Linked DNA regions of Homo sapiens: region 2 is linked to region 1. The links come from fine-mapping of genetic effects on gene expression. A gene starts in region 1. The other region holds a variant in brackets. All regions are shown on one strand. Distances are between the middles of the regions. Region 1 holds the start of RXRA (retinoid X receptor alpha). Region 2 overlaps COL5A1 (collagen type V alpha 1 chain).

The links.
Region 2: its variant is fine-mapped to the expression of RXRA in cerebellum (GTEx, PIP 0.99).

The regions. Positions count from the first base shown.
Region 1 is chr9:134,321,791-134,330,108 of GRCh38, forward strand. RXRA (retinoid X receptor alpha) reads left to right here and starts at 4,665. Exons shown (of 10, transcript NM_002957.6): 1 at 4,665-4,869. The coding sequence starts at 4,842. RefSeq lists silencers at 4,163-4,342, 4,413-4,462, 5,201-5,340 and enhancers at 5,951-6,880, 6,881-7,810.
Region 2 is chr9:134,839,701-134,848,018 of GRCh38, forward strand. COL5A1 (collagen type V alpha 1 chain) reads left to right here. Exons shown (of 66, transcript NM_000093.5): 66 at 2,457-5,143. The coding sequence ends at 2,603. The region is part of intron 1 of LOC101448202 (a long non-coding RNA gene); the gene reads right to left. Among named protein-coding and RNA genes, the nearest start is that of MIR3689C, 5.5 kb to the right of the region's middle. RefSeq lists enhancers at 2,439-3,273, 5,585-6,085. The variant T/C (reference allele first, on the strand shown) is at 3,497.

The DNA.
Region 1 (8,318 bases):
TCCTGTGAGACAGGCTGTCATTCTATTTCCCCGTAGTCATATTCTTGTTTCTGTGATTAGCTGGTTCTTTTCTCTATTTTATAGAAGAGACTGATGTCCAGAGAGTACCCTTGTCCAAGGGCCATGTAAGAGTTGGTGGCAGAGCCAGGCTATGGCCTCTTCCTCCTGGTACCTTCCCCAGCACCTTGTTTTCCAAGTCTGTTACCTATGTCCCTTCTCTCTGGACTTTGGTCTCACCTGGCACCGGCTGCTTTGGCTGGCCGACCTGTGCCATGAGAAGCGGGGAGGTGGTGTGGCTCATTGGAGGCTGGGGGCGGAGGTCGGTGGTTGTCTGGGGTCTTTCCTGGGGGTTCTGACCACTGACCTCAGCCCTGGGTCTGGGGACTGTGGTGCCAGAGTCACCACACGGTTTGGAGTCAGTCACTGCTGCTCTTCGCCTCAGTGTTTCCATCTGGGAAACGGGGAAACCAGAGTCTTGGTCAGCCGGGGTGGGGTTAGAGGGGATGGTACCTGGCAGTGTGCAGCAGACTGGCACCTCGGAGGCAGCTTGGAAAGCTCAGGTTCCTCCTCTCCGGACTCTCAGAACTGTTCCTGCCCTTCTTTGAGCATCTGTGACCCCTTGCGGCTGGCGCTGGGATTCGGTGGGGCTCTTTGGTGGCCCCTGGAGGGAACCCACTGTCTCTTGCCTGGAGCTGCACTGAAATCCTGGCTCTTCATTACAAACCAGCTCCTGTCCCCTTAAGCCTCACTCACCTGAACTCTTTGGCTCACGCCACCATTCAGCTCCCCAGAGTTCTGGAAGTAAGACCCCAGCTGATGACGGAGGCAGCGGCTGGCCTTCGGAGGACCTCACCTTTCTCTTCCCCTGCACTGCTTTGGGTTTGGGGTGTGCAGGGCCAGCCAGCTGACTGCTACCAGGGCAGACGCTGTCAGTGGTGACTGCCCTGCAGGCCTGCAAACATTTTGCCAGAGGGCCAGACCCAGGAGCAGAGGGGTCCTCTTCTCTTCCTCCTCCTCCCCTCCTGTCCTCTCCTCTCCCCTCCCTCCTATCCTTTCTCTTCCTCTCCACTCAGCAGAACAGACTGGAGCCCAGGTGTGGACAAGTGGCTTGAGTGTTTCCCTCTAGACTGATGGAGAGACAAGCTATGACTGAGAAAGGGGGTTCGGGCTGGGACCCCTGGGCCTAGTCCCAGTTCCATGTGGACCTGCCGGGTGGCCCCTTGCCTCTCTGAGCTTTCGGCTCTACTTCCCAGCTCGAGTCATCATCGGTCACCACAGACAAAAGGTGTTGTCCCCAAAGGAGCCACAACGGATGTGAGAGAGAGTCCCCTTAGGCTGAGGTGCTTGGGGACAGATCGGGCCACCTTGCCCAGCAGTACCCAAGCCCTTGGCCTCCCTTGTTGGAGGCTGAGCTCCCCAAACCCCTGTGAGGTCCTGCTAGTGACCAGCTCAGGACCACAGGGAACCTCTGGAAGCAGCTTAGAGCCCCGTTGGTGTCCTGGGAACTTCTGGGAGCAGTCCACCCAGACGCCAGCTTCCTCATGCTCAGCCAGCACAGAGACCAGCCTTTAAAAATATTATTCAACAAGCAATTCCCGGGACTGTTTACAAGACTGAGCCGAGACAGGCATATGAAATAGGCCAAAGTACCTTAAAAAGCGTCCCTCAGGGAAATTAAAAAAAAAAAGACCCAAACAAAAAAACAAAAAAACAAAACCTTCTTAGATCGCAGGTTGTGAATAAATGGATACTACTATAAAAATAGTTTTGGCTGTAGCAGCACATGGTGGGAAGGCTGGGGTGTTTTTTTCCATGGCTGGCTCAGACCTGGCCATTTCATATGGGGCAGCCACTATCCCGGGAGGTTTCGTGTAGAATCATTTGCACCAAAAAGCTCCAAACTGAGGGGGAGGATAAAAAGTAGTGGCCACAGAAATAACAAGCGGCATCGTCATTTTCCATCAAGGACCTGGTGTGTTTTCGGCGGCCGAGCACCCAGGCCCCTGCCCCATGGAAGAGAAGGGCGGGGCTGAGAGCCATTCACCGTCTGTGGGCACAGAGGCTGGATGTGAGCCCAGATCTGCAGGACTCCGGACTCCGTGCGCTCTCCACGTGGTCTCTAGAGCAGGGGATGACGCCTTCCGGTGTTTCTTAGGAACAGAGGGCCCTTCTGGAACCTTCAGCCTTCCCAGGAGGAACCCACATGGAAATCTGTCTGCATGTGCCTCCCCGACTCCAGGCACCAACAGCTCCTGAGTCTTGAGTTTTCAGGGACAAGGAGTGAGATGGGGGTGGGGTGGAGAGTCCAGCATGCCACACCGCCCACTATTGGGAGGTGACCTCAGACACTTCAGCCCAGCCTTCCCACCATTGCCTGGCGTGTCCTGACCTGCCGTCCGCGGCCTGCTGCTCCTTCTCTCTGCAGGCCGCTGCTCAGCCGGCCCTGCTGCCTGGGCGGCCACTGCCTGATGGAACCTCCCTGCTCCAAAACCTGACTCAAGAACCAGTGATCCCAAAAGCTGCCTGAGCCCTTTGGCTGGATAGAGCCTTGCTCTCCCTGCACTGAGCATAGGCGAACGGCCTGCCTAATTCAGCGTCATTTCATCATCATCATCATCACAATAACTGTCACACCGAGCTCGTCCTCCCGAGCGCAGACTCTCCATATTATCTCACTTAGTCATCTCAGTGACTCAGTGAGGAGGGAGTGGTTGTTCCCACTTTACAGATGAGAAAACTGAGATACAAGGAGGGAAGTGACCCAGCTAGGCCACACGGTTGGTAGGAGGTGGACCTGCAATCTGGCCCAGGCCTTGTCTATCTGGGACTCCCCCCCAACCCCCCAACCTGAGTACAGTCAGGAGGGGCCCAAGCAGTCACAGAGACAGGCCTGGAACGCGGCGGGCACATGGCACTTTTGCAGTGTATGTTGGTGCTTACGGGGGCTCTTTCTCAGTCCTATCCTTTGTTTGCCGCCCCCCTCCCTGGCAGGAGGAACTCAGTTTTAGAAGGGCAGTGGGTTGGGCCGGCATGCCATGTGCAGTGGGGAAGTGGGTCTGTTGTGGCTGTAACCACAGTGGGTGAGGACCAGGTGTCAACAGTGGCCCTCATCCCGGAGGGAGTGGGGCAGGCTGCCTGTTGGACAGGGTGTGTGAATAGGGGGACGGGGTGGCCTTTGGTAGGGGCCCAGGGGTCAGTGAAGAGGGGGAGGGGGAGAGGGCTGCCTTGGGCTCTGGCTGTGCTGGGGGTGGGCTGCCCAACCAGGGCACTTCTGTCCCAAGTGGAACCAAGACCTCCCACCGGAACAGGCCACCGGAGCCCTCGTGGAACCCAGCTCCGGGTGGCCCGACTTGAGGGGCACCCAGGCAGCAGGACACCTCTCTGGTCTCGGGCTGTTATCTTTGGGCCGTGTCATGGCTGTCCACACGCGGTCATCACCTCCTCACCTCCCTCCCCATTAGCGTCCCCTGACCCGGGCCACCACGCGCAGCCTGCGTGAATGGTCAGTCCCTGTGCCTCGCAGCCCGGGCCCTTAGGTCTAGGTGGTCAGCAAGCTCGCGGTGGGGGTGCGGAGGGAGGGCGCGGCGGGGCGCCTCGGCGCCTGCTCAGGAAGGCTGGGCTTGGCGGCGCGCAGGTAGCTCACACCCAAATCCGAATTCCAGCCGCCCGAGACGGCGGGCGGCGGGCGGCGCGCGGCGGAGGCGGCCCGAGCTGTCCCGGGGCAGGAGTGCTTCCTTTCGTTTTCAAACAAATCGTGAATTTAAAAGTCAGGCAGAGAACTACCCAGGGTATAAAAATAGCCACCGGCCACAAAGTCTGTGTCCAACTCCGGGCAGCGCCTGCCCAGCCTGGTGCCTTTGAAGAGGGGTCCCAGGAGTGCGGGTCGATGAGGAGGCGAAGCGCGCACCCCTCCTCGTTCCCGGTGGGCTCGTGGGTCTCTCCGTGGGGGTAGGGCGTGAAAGTGTGGGGTGGACCGGGGGTAGCGTCCGGAAGACGAAACCTTCCCCGGACGAGGAGCTTGTCCTCTGCCGTTGGGGCACATCGCCACTCCCGGGCCTCAGTTTCCCCACGTGTCCGCCGCGGCGGGGTGCGAGGTATGGGTGCCGCGGCCATCCCGCCCGGCTCTGCGCTTGCCTGGCCCGGGCCGGGGTCCCCTCGCGGCCACCGCCCGGCCGCTTTGTGTGGCCGCGCAGACAATGGCCCGGCCGCTGGGCTCCCGGCCCGGCTCTCCGCCTCCTCCGGGCCCTTGCGCGCAAGTGTGTGTGTGCGCGAGTGTGTGGCGGGCCCGGGGAGGGAGTTCTGCTCCCGCCCCCGCCCCCGCCCCGCTCCCTCTGCGCCCCGCCCCCTCCCACGCCGCCTCCTCGCGGCTCCCGGGAACCCCTGGCGGAGGCGAACTCGCAAGTTTGCACGGCGCTCTCAACTCGGCGGCCGGGCGGGCGGCGATCGCGGGGCGGCGGCGGCGGAGGGGGGCGCGCTCCGGGCGGGGCTGGGCGGGCGGGGCGCGGGCCGAGCGGTGGCGGCGGCGCTGCGCCGAGTCAGCGCCCGTCGCGGGCCCCCCGCCACCCCCCCGCCGGCGCCGCAGCGCCGCGGTCGGAGCGGGGCGCGGGCGCGCGGCGGCGGGGGCGCGGGCCGGGCGCGCGCGGCGGCGGCGCGCAGACACAAGTAGTTTACATTGTTGGGCGACTTTTGCAACAACTCGCCGCGCCGCGGCCTCCGCGCGCCGCCGCCGCCACCGCAGCCGCCGGCTCCCCGCCGCCCGGGCCCGGGCCGGCCGCGCCGGGGGCCGCCGCGCCCGCCGCCCGCTGCCTGCGCCGCCGGCCGGGCATGAGTTAGTCGCAGACATGGACACCAAACATTTCCTGCCGCTCGGTGAGTGCTCGCCGGGCCGGGCGGGGACGGGGCCGGGGGCCGGGGGCCGGCGGGCGGGAGGGGGCCGGGGGCGCGTTGGCGGCGCGCGCGGGGGGTCGCCGGCCCGGGCCCCGCTCGGACCCCTCGCCGACCTTCGCGTGAGTTCGGGCGCCGGGCCCGGGGAGGGTCGACCCGGGGCAACTTTTCGCGGGGCCGGGGCGGGGCTGGGCAGCGGGCGGGCGGCGGGGCCGGGGGGCGGGTGGCAGGTTCGCCCGGGACGAGGAGGGGTCTCCCGCTCACCGGCGGCCGCCTGCGCCCCGGCGCCCAGCTGCAGCCGCGCCGCACAGGAACCCGGCCGGAGCGGGAGGAGCAACTTCTGCGCTCCGCGGCTCCGGCCTCCCTGGCCTGGGGACCGGGACGGCGCGCTGGGCCCCGAGCGGCCTCTGCGCCGCCCGCCCGTCGGGCTGCGGCTTCTAGCAGGCCGCTGGCCCTTGGGTGTGTGTCCGCCCAGGAAACAGACTGGGACCCTGTTATCCCCAAAGCAGCCCACGCCCGGGTGGGCAGGGTCCCCCGGGGCTGTATGAACAGAACGTCAGACCTGGGAAGGCCCCATTCCAGAAATGGGGCCCCTCACTCTGGCACCCCCGGGTGTTCTCCCAGGCTGGCTCTCCATTTGTGAGCAGGACAGCGCAGAGGCGCGTAGGGTCAGTTTCCCTCCTCCTCCTGCCATCCCGCCCGGTAGCTTCCTATCCCAGACTGCCCGCCAACTCCAGGCCCAGACCTACCGAGAAGGGGGAGAGGGCATGGCTGGGGCCCCCACCCATTGCCCTCCCAAGGGTTTGGAAGCTAGTGAGAAGGGGGAGACTTTATAAATTAGCTCCGGGAAGGATATTAATTTGGTGGTGGGACGGCAGCCAGGCTGTCAGGCCGGGTGAAGGATTTGTGCTGAATGGAAATCGAAACAGCTGATTATGAATGAAGCCCCCGCCATCCGTAGCCCCTCCTGCCCACCCTCCCTGCAGCCTGGGGTGCAGCTTGGCCACCCCAGGAGGTGCTCAGAAGCCAATGTAGCTGCAGGGATGTTTAGTGAGATGGGGCATCAAGGGGAGCCAGCATGGACCTAGCCCCTCCTGGATGTGAGGGTGAGAGTCTGAGTACCTCTGCTACTCACAGGCAGGTGTGCTGCCCCGTGACCGGGGCAGGCGGTGGGTTCCAGGTTTGTCAGACCTAACGCTTACTCCCTGCCTCTGTCATGATGGAGTGGTGGGCTCGAGGCCTTGAATGAGCTCCAGGGCTCAGCCTCCAGGGGTGGGCGCTCATGCCCATTTTGCAGATGAGAAAACTGGCTGGGAGAGGCTGAGCCCCCAGGATACAAGGTGGTGGATTTGGGATTAGCACCCCCAGCTCGTGGTACTGCTGAGTGTGAGGCAGGAGGGAATGCTGCGCTGTCTGTGACCGAGTGCAGTGTGGAGTGGGCTGGGGCTGCCTTTCCCTGTTAAAGCTTTGCACTCACACATGTGCACACACACATCCACACACACAGAGCTAGGCTCTCCCAGACGATTCCTCTGGAACAAGAATGCTCAGCTCAGTGTCTGGCCCCTGGACGTGGCAGGGGCCTGGCTGGTTGCACTTCAGCTGAGTACTGAGAACCGAACAGGTCCCTGTTTCTAATGCTCCGGGTGGGACAGGGATAGTCCACGGAGTTGGTGGATGTAGGGCGAGGGAGCAAGGGGTGCCCAGTCGCCATGGTGGCTTGCTGGAGTCCCTGTGAGGAGGAGAGGTCGTGCCTCCGAGCCACTGCCCCAGGGATCTCCCTGGGCACTCCCCTGCCACAAGGAAGCTAGGAGTCTTCTGTTCTCGAGCAGCAGCTCTCCCGACCGGCCCATGGCCTCCCAGGCAGCCCACGCCCCAGGGCTGAGCAGAGAGCCCTGGGCTCTGATTACATTTTATTTTTTTTCTAAGCTTGTGACCAGCTCTGAAGTCCAGAGCAGTCGAAGGTCCATTTAAGCGGCTACTTTTCTAAGCCCTTTTGTCAACACAGCCTAATCCCTCCTCGGGGTGAGTGGTGGTGGAGGGCCTGGCTTGTCTTGGCCCGGCTGGCCGACCGGTCAGACCTGGAGCTGCTGGGGAGACTCGGCCACCCCTTACAGCTGCCCAGCCGCTTTTGGGGTCTGGGGTAGAGAGGGCTTCCTCCTCCCAGCATTCACTACCGCTGGGCTTGGTGGGCAGGGAGAGGATCCCAGTCGGTGTCCACCGAGCCGCTCAGTGAGGGCAGGGATGAGTGCAGCGTCCAGATCTGGAAGGAAAGCAAGGCCGAGGGACTCGCCAGAGGCAGCCCCAGCTTCCTGGCCCTGCTGCCCGGGGCTGGCCGCGCTCCCACGCCTGCCGGGGAGAAGGCCCCCGCTGGCCTTATCCTGAATGGTGGGACTCAGGCGGAGTCCACAGAGTCCAAAGGTCTCAGACCACACCAGACCCCATGCGCCTGTGGAGAGACCCGGTGGCAAAGCTGTAGGCCCGCTGACCACTCTTGGAGTTGGGGCACTTGGGGGCCTGGGTGAGCTTGCAGCCTGTGTGAGGGGCTTCTGGTAACATCAGAGCCCTTGGGACCCAAAATAGAGCACATTCCGGGGCCTCCCGAAATAACAGGGTCATGTGACTCTCAGGAGGCTGGGCTTGGAGTCCCGCTCGGGCCTGACGAGGGCGTCTTTTAGCGCGGGCGCTGCCCGACGGCAGGGTGTTTGTTTTGGTAAACTCTGGAGGGGCCCTGTTTGTTGACTGGGGAGGTGTCAGGGAGAGAAAAATGGCCCAGTCCGATGGTGGCCCTGGCTTGCTAGCCTCCAACCTTGCCTAGGGCTGGCTGCTGGGCCTGGACCCGAGCATGCAGCTGTGACCCTCTGCCCAGATGTGGATGGGACGAGCTGGGCCCCTAGGAAGGGCTGGTGGGGGGCGGGTGCTCTGAGTCCCTTGGGGTGTGGGGTGCAGGTTGAGCCGGCAGCCCTGGTCACGCGGGCAGCTGCTGTGACTGGCTCCCGGCTCTGCCAGCACCTGGTGGTTCTTCCAGCTGTGCCTGTCCTTCAGGGCCTGTGGGGGGCTCACCTCCACCAGGAGGCCCCTCTGACTGCCCTCTCTTGGCCCCTGCCCCATCTCCCCCGTGGCTGTGTGGGAGGTCGCTGTCAGTGGTCTTTGTTTCCTCCCCTGGGAAAGGGTGCCTGCAGGATTTGCTGTGGAATTACTGTGGGAACAGGGGGTACTCAGGGGTGTGCCCCTCTGCCCCTGGGGCCTGGTCGTGCATGTGGCAGGGGGCTCTGGCATCAGGAGAGGGTGGGACAGACCTCAGCTGCATGGAAGGTGGTGTGGGGGCGGGGTGAAAGCTTTACAGGTCCACCCAGTGCCAGTGGAGGCTGCCTGGGGAGTTTCCTTTCTTGGGTGACGTTTGGTTTTGCCATGGGTCAAATGTTTCAGGGCTG
Region 2 (8,318 bases), 520 kb after region 1:
GGCAGGGTGGTCTCTGGCTCCTCGCCGGTGGGGAGGGTGAGGAGGTTGGTACCCTCAGGGTTCACCCCTGGAGGGTGTGGATGGCCACCTCTCATTGAATATCCTGTGTCCAGCCCCGCTGCCCACCTATCCTTCCCAGCCACCGCAGAGCTGCAACTGGCCCCTGCCCTCCGTTCCACAGGAGAGCTGTGGCCACCCCCAGGCGGGCTTGTGGGACAGCAGCATCCCAGCTGTGTTCTGCAGGGCTGAGCTGGCCACAGGGTGCCGTCTGCCCCACACTCGGCATTCTGTGGAACTGTGTGTTTTGCTGTCAAGTCCGGGGGTGCCCCATGGCGAGGTCCTTTAGGACAGCGTTTCTCAAAGGCCAGTCATGACCACGCCTATCAGAATTGTCTGAGACACCCATTTTTTAAAATGCAGATTCCGAGTCCCACCCCAGCCAGACGGAGTCAGCCTCTCTGGGCAGGGGTCAGAGCTGTAGGGGGTTAACAAGCTCCCTGAGAACTCGCGTTCTCTCTGAAGTTCCAATCCCAACTTGAAAATCATGCCAGGCTGAGCCAGCTGCAGTAACAGAAAGGTGTTCCTATCAAGGCAGGGTTGTGAGAAGGGCAGGGTCAGGGGAGAAGTGGACATTAGGAGGTGAAGTTTGGGACTCTCATGGATAATAGCAGGAACGCATGCAGGGAGGTGAGCTTCATTCCTTCTCACAGCGCCTCTGTGATGTGAGCATGCCCATTTTCCAGCTGAGGAAACTGAGTCACAGAAAGCGTATCGGTTATCCATTGCTTGTAATCAACTAGCCCCCCAAATTTAGCAGCTTAAAACCACAGATGTTCGTTACGTCACCCCATGTCCGAGGGTCAGAAGCCTGGGAGAGGTGCAGCTGGCTGGCTCTAGCTCAGGGTCTGTCTTAGGTCCATTCGCTGCCACGACAAATCTCGCCAGCTGCGTGGCTCATAAGCAACAGAAATTTGTCGCCCACAGTTCTGGAGGCTGGAAGTCTGTGAGCAGGTTGCTGGCAAGGCAGGCTCTGGTGAGCTCCCCTCTGGGCTGCAGATAGCAGCTTCTCACTACACCCTCACAGGGTGGAGTCTCTCGGGTGCCTCTTTTATAGGGGCACTAATACCACTCATGGGGTTCCACCCTCAGGACCTCCTCAACTCCCATCGAACGGCCCCACCTCCTAATACCATCTTTGGGAACGGGAACATTAAGATCATAGTCAGGGAGAATAAGGCCCTTCAAGGCCACGCCCTCCCCATAGGTCAGGGAGCAGAATACCGGGAGAGCTGGAGCTGCTGTCTGCTATCCGAATCTCCGGCCTGGGAGTCTGCGCTGGGCCCTCTGCAGGGCTGCATCCTGGGGTCACTGCCTCCCATCCGGGAGGGAACCCTGGCTGGCCCCTACTTGTTTATCTGATCATTTCTTTTGGGGATGGGGCAGTGGAAGGAGATCCTTCCCAGGCCCAGATCCAGCTGCGACTGTAAATCCAGTCTGGGTCTGAGGTAGCAAAAGCCATCTGCCCAGGATGCGTTTGCAGGCTCCTGGTTTGCGGGAAAGGTGCGGCCTCCAGGGCCCTTGTCTTGGGGGAAGTTGACGGGACAGCAGGGCCAGCTCAGCCTCAGTTATAAAGAACACTGGGAGTTATATTTGGGTGGCTTTGGGGAGGGACCAAAGAATCTCACACCTGCGCTGCCTGTGTTCTGGGAGGGAGGCGGCCTCTCCTAGGCTTCCATCCCACATCCCAGCGCCCAGGGTTGTGCTGTTTTGAGCAAGGGATGGGTGCTGACTCATCCTGCAGGCCAGGTTCATTGCACTACCCCTGCCCTCTGTGCCTCAGTTTACCTAAGACTCCTCTAGACCAGATGGTGTGGAAGGTCCCCACCCCTTCCCATACTTGTGGAGGTGAAGACCCAGCCCACCGAGTGCCTAAGGCAGTGTGTGGCAGGTGGTCGTAGGGGGGTCTTACTTGGCTCAAGGCTCTGCCGGTGCCGCCTCGGACTCCTTCCTTTTCGAACCTGGAGCCCCCGTTTGATTTTCCAGTGTGCCCTGCTTGTTCTGTAGCTGGCCCTGGGTCCTGGGGAGGCTGCCTGGAAGTGAATACCTGGGGCATCACAAGGAGTCTGGACTGGGCACGGTGGGAAGGCTGATCAGCTTCAATCCTGTGTGTGCCTCAGCCACCCCTGAAGCCTTGGGAGGGTCCTGTCGCCTCGCTGATGCCCACACCACCCCACCTCCGACCTGTGCAGGGGGACTCTTGGGACATCCACCGGGGTTAAATGCATGCTCTGATCAGCCATATTTCCTCCAACACTTGCCCGGGCAAGCGCAGCCCTGGGTAGGAGACAGGACACCAGCCTGGGTTTTGGAGCCAGACAGATTGTGGGGGGTGATTGGTAAACCCCAAGACCCCCAACTGTTCTTAACCACCGGCCATCTGTCTCCCTCTTCCCCAGACCAAGAAAGGCTACCAGAAGACGGTTCTGGAGATCGACACCCCCAAAGTGGAGCAGGTGCCCATCGTGGACATCATGTTCAATGACTTCGGTGAAGCGTCACAGAAATTTGGATTTGAAGTGGGGCCGGCTTGCTTCATGGGCTAGGAGCCGCCGAGCCCGGGCTCCCGAGAGCAACCTCGTGACCTCAGCATGCCATTCGTTCGTGAGTGTCCCGTGCACGTCCTGACCCTGGACAGTGAAGGCTTCTCCCTCCCCTCCCACCTGACTTCATCTACGCCTCGGCACCACGGGGTGTGGGACCCCAGCCCGGAGAGAACAGAGGGAAGGAGCCGCGCCCCCACCTGGAGCTGAATCACATGACCTAGCTGCACCCCAGCGCCTGGGCCCGCCCCACGCTCTGTCCACACCCACGCGCCCCGGGAGCGGGGCCATGCCTCCAGCCCCCCAGCTCGCCCGACCCATCCTGTTCGTGAATAGGTCTCAGGGGTTGGGGGAGGGACTGCCAGATTTGGACACTATATTTTTTTCTAAATTCAACTTGAAGATGTGTATTTCCCCTGACCTTCAAAAAATGTTCCAAGGTAAGCCTCGTAAAGGTCATCCCACCATCACCAAAGCCTCCGTTTTTAACAACCTCCAACACGATCCATTTAGAGGCCAAATGTCATTCTGCAGGTGCCTTCCCGATGGATTAAAGGTGCTTATGTTTTTGTGAGTTTTAAGTAAATATTTGTATTGTATTGTTATAAATGTTAAGTGTGCCTGGCTTTCAATCATGCACGGAAACCCAGTCTCAGTCCCACGGACAGAATGGGCGAGGCATGGATTCTGGGTTGCAGTACCGTTCTGATTAGAAATAGGAAGTCTCCCCACCCCCGCCCTGGCCAAGAACGTGCAATAAATTGGAAGTTTGCCCCGGGGCAGCAAGAATTTATGCTGCCATTGAAAAGCAGGTACCAGTGCCCCTTTTCAGACAGTTTTTGATTCGCTCTAGACTTTTTTTTTTTTTAATAGGGAAAAAATTTGATAATTTTCTT[T/C]TTTCTACATGCACTTAAGACTAAAACACAGGTTTGGATTAATTTTATTTGCTTCCTTTTTCCGCTTTTCTTCCCGCAGAGCCTGATGGGAGAATGTCCAGGGCAGGGAAACCACATTTTTTGTAGGTGATAACTCAATGAAAATTGGTGCTTATTTTTTACACTTCTCTCTTGTGGCTCTCTTGTGGTGCTATCTATCTGTTTTAAGGTCTCCTTGAAGGCGCACTGGGGACCCTGGCCATGCCTCGTTCTCCCTGCTTTCTTTATCCTGTTATTGCCTCCACAGTCTGTTGCCAAGGACTCTAAGATCAATGCACGTCACTTTCCTTTCCACTGGGCAGGATAGCCAAGCACACTCCCTCCTGCGCTCTCCCGCCCCGGTGCGTCCACTCCCGAGGGCTGTTATGAGGACTGGGTTGTGCCTACTTGATTTGAAAACACACACAAGCAATAAAAAGCCTCTTCCTGCATTGTCTGTGGTGTGACCATAGCAGATTATATTTGGTTCCTGAATGTTTGTGGTGCTAATTTCTGTGTTTGTTCCAAGCCGTTCAGTCATGCCATGCGCTGCCTCGGTAGATGGAGTAATGTACAATGAACTCCATGAGTCTCTCCAGGGCTGCCTGCAGCACGTCTTTTCCAAGTAGCCTATTTGGATTCCCATCTCAAATGTCCTGGATGCGAGCGTCAGCGGCTCCAGAGCTCGGGGCGGGTGAGGTCCCCTTTGGGGAACCCTTTCCTGGCCATCGAGGTCGGGGGGCTGCCGTCTGTGGGCAGGAGGACCCGAGGGGCAGCCAGGAAAGGCGATCTCTTCACTGTGAAAAGTTGCCCGGGTGCAGCGCCTTTTCCTTCTACCATGGGAAATGCAGGCTGGGCCCTTGGGGTGAGCCTGCGGGGCTCTGGTGCTGTCCCCGACCCCCACCACCACCAGAATGCAGTTCCAGCTTAGGAAGCCACAAACAAGCCACCCAGGAGGAACAAAACACCGCCAGCGTGGATTTTCCAAATTTCCCTGGAAAGTAAGTCTCGCTCTTGCCAAAGAAAAGTCTGGCTTGGAGAGTCTCTGGAGCCCAGGATGCCAGCATGTGCCAATGACTGTCACCTTCATCTCTTCAAAAGAAAAGCCATAGCCGAGGACTGTCCCGCGACCCCCGTGGACTGCGTCTAGGTCATGTGATTCTGTTTTCATTTCTCATCCCATCCAATTTGTCCTTTTCTCCTGTCATTTTCTTCCTCTGTGGTCCCTTCAAAGTTGTTATAATTTGTACTGAACTTCAAAATGTGTCCCGTTCTCCCCAGACCACTCTAGCCACAGTATATTGCAATAAAATTACTTCTTATATTTGCAGAAATTCTTTTGGTGTAATTTTATTTTTTCCTCTCAATATATATAATTGGACAAACGCTGGCAAAAAGAAAAAAATGGTAAGCAAAAAACCCAAGATAAAGTTTCGAGGACATCAGGCCTTTTGAAATACAATGTCAAATGACACATTGTACGGTTTCAAAAAATCCGCTAGACATGTCATAAGTTTTAACTGTAATGCCCAGGAAAGGATATCTTAAAATATTCTAAACTTGTGTAACAAAGGAATAATTAACTGTAATAGTTTTTCAATAAATCGAGTTGGGTGTTTCCACCGTAAACAGATGTGAGTGACTCTCTTCTTAAGTGTGGCCAGGCCCCTCCCAGACAGGACTGCACACAGTCCCAGGACGCTAGGAGCTCTGGAGATAACCACACTGGCCACCCAGAGAAAGGAAGGGATGGCCCCGGCTGTCCTTAGGTGGAGCTTGTCCCTCAGGAGTGGCCAAGGCTGGCATGGACAGCTTTGTGCCCTTGGGAGGATGTTAGAACGTAACCGGGCACTAGCCCGAGAAGTGAGTTTCAGCCACTGCTGGGTGTCCACACCACCGTGTACTGTCCTCACTCTTCACTCCTGGCAGTCAGCACCCTGCGAGAATGTTCTTGAAGCTCTCCAGCACTGCCCTTCCAGCTGTGTAGCAGGATTAGACTCCCTAGCTCCTTGTGGCTAGAGGTCGGGGAAGGCACGGGGCTCGTTGCAGCCGATGACCTTGAGCCCACGTGGCATTCGCCTCTTCCGGTCTGAAGGTGTGGTTCCCTCGGGCACAGCACCAGCCATGTTTCGTGGAGGGGCTACGTCACCAGCAGGTTCCCTGAGTGAGCCCCCTGCCAGCTTGTGAGAACTGGTAGCAGGAGCAGGAGAAGCACATTTTTGTTTTATTAAAGCCACTGATGTCAGGGACTGTTGATTACTCTGCCGAATAACCTAGGCCAGTGGGTCTCCAGCAGGGTCCGGGGAATGGCAGCAATGGCACCACCTTGTTAGAAGTGCCAGTCCCTGAGCCCCATCCCAGACCTGCTGGCCCAAATGTTGTGGGAGAGCTGAATCATCTGAAAGCAGGTCTCTGAGCAACTCTGCTGCACGTTCAAGCCGGAGAGCCAGTAACCTAGGTGATCCGGAATTGTGTAGGTGCTTAAGGACGAGGCGACTTTCACAACAGAAGGGTGGTCTGCAGCATTGCCCAGGGAAGCTGGGGCCATTGTGAGAGGATGGGAGGCTGTTGACCCATGTCATCCACAGGCAGAACATTGGGTACAATTGTTTGATCACTGTGATAGCTCAGAGGTAGATTATGAACTCATAACTTGCAACCCTTGGGGAGGAGGCTTGACATGAAATGATGGTGGGCAGGCTGGATGCCTGAATTCCATGTGGCAAGGTACCACGTGGCAGACCAGCTCTGGAAAGAGCCAGGAATGAAAGGAAACGGCCCACGAATCAAGGATGCGCAGAGTTGGAAGAGGCAACCGTTTCCCAACATCAACTGTTTAAAGACCACATTGAGAGACGCCTTGAGGGACAAACGCCAGTTAAAACTCAGTCGTCATGAATTTGAGCAGCCCACCCCTTTCTTAAAATCCTGGAGTAGATTAGGATGGCGCCTAATAAATGCATTTGAGTTGGGAAAGCGACTCCGGCAATGGACGCTCACAGTCGTCAAAGGTTGATGGGTCTGAAGGTCCTTGCCATCGAATCCAGAAGAGGAGAGAGAGCAAGGCAGGTGGGCGGACAGTCGGCGTGGTGCCTGCTGGTGGAGCGGCCAGAAATGCACAGGTGGGCAGCTGATCTGTCCTCCGGAGAGGCATCCTGCAGAGGGGCCCCAGCCTGGTCTGGAGGAGTCAGTGGCTCAGACTCACAATGACCCTTTGACCATCCCAGGCAGCAGGAGGCTTGAGGTCCACTCGGCCGGTGGCTGAGCCATGGCACAGTTGTGGCCCAGAGTTGTGGGACTCCCCTCGCACCCGTCATGCAAGGGGACTCCCACGATTTCTCGGGGTTGTAGGTGACAGCTCTGGGAAGTTTCCTGGGGAGAAGGAACCCTGGAGGGAGGGTGCATGCCCCCAGTCTGCCTTCCTTGCCTTCCTCCTCCCACTGGCCCCAAGGAGTTCTGCCACCACATCCATTCATTCATCTGTTCATCCATCCATTCATCTATCCATCCATTCACCCTTTCATCCATTCATCTATCTATCCATTCATCTATTCATCATTTATCCATCCATTCATCCATCCATCCATCCATTCATCCATTCACCCTTTCATTCATCCATTCATTCATCCATTCATCCATCTATTAATCTATTCATCATTTATCCATCCATCCATCCACACATTCGTTCACCCTTTCATTCATCTGTTCATCCATTCATTCATTCATCCATCCATTCATCCATCTATTCATCATTTATCTGTCCATCCATCTATCCATCCATTCATCTATCCATCCATCCATCTATTCATCATTTATCCATCCATCCATCCATCCATCCATCCATCCATCCATCCACTCTTTCATTCATCCATTCATTCCCCCATTCCTTCAGTGGCAGTTCATTGACCACCTGCTGTGTGCCAGGCGGGAGCAGCAGGGGAGAACCCACCCTCAAGGAGATGCCACTCCAGGGGACACGGGCTGACCAAGACCCACAAGGCAGGGGTAAGGTGTGCCCAGAGGAATGAGACCTGAGGAAATGTAAAGGGGAGGAGACAATGTGCATGTGTGTGGTTGTGTGTGTGTGGGGGGGGTGATGTGCATGTGTGTATGGCACGTGTGTGCATGTGCTATGTGGTGTATTTTGCATGTGCTATTTGTGTTTATGTGAAGTGTATGTGTGTTGTGTGTGTACCTGTGTGTGTGGTGTGCCTGTGTGGTGTGTGTGTGTGCCTGTGGGGAGCTGTGCCTGTGTATGTGGTGTGTGTGCCTGTGTGTGTGGTGTGTGTGGTGTGTGTGTGTGTGGTGTATGCCTGTGTGTGGAGGTGGTGTTTGTGCATGTGCCTGTGTGGTGTGTGTGCTGGCGTGTGTATGGTATATGTGTGCGTGCCTGTGGGGAATGTGCCTGTGTGTGTGGTGTGTGCTGCATGTGTATAGTGTGCATGCCTGTGTGTGTGGTTTGTGCTGTGTCTGTATAGTGTGTGTGTGGGTGTGGTGTGTGTGCCTGTGTGTATGGGGTGTGTAGTGTGTGTGGGGTGGGGATTGAAGTGCTCTCCTGGGTGACCAGGGCCACTGGGAAGGTTCTCTCTGCCTGGAGCCCAGCGGGCAGGAAGGGCTTTGCAGGAGAGGGAACAGCAGGGCAGAGGCCAGAGGGAGTGGGGAGAGGAAGGGGAAGTGGGAGGGGGCTGGTGTGGCCTGAGCAGAGATGGGGAGGGAAGCCACACGGGGCAGTAACCCAGACGCAGGCTGGGGGCGGTGCAGACCCATGAGAGTGGGTCACACTCCGGCTCCAGGTGTTTCAAAG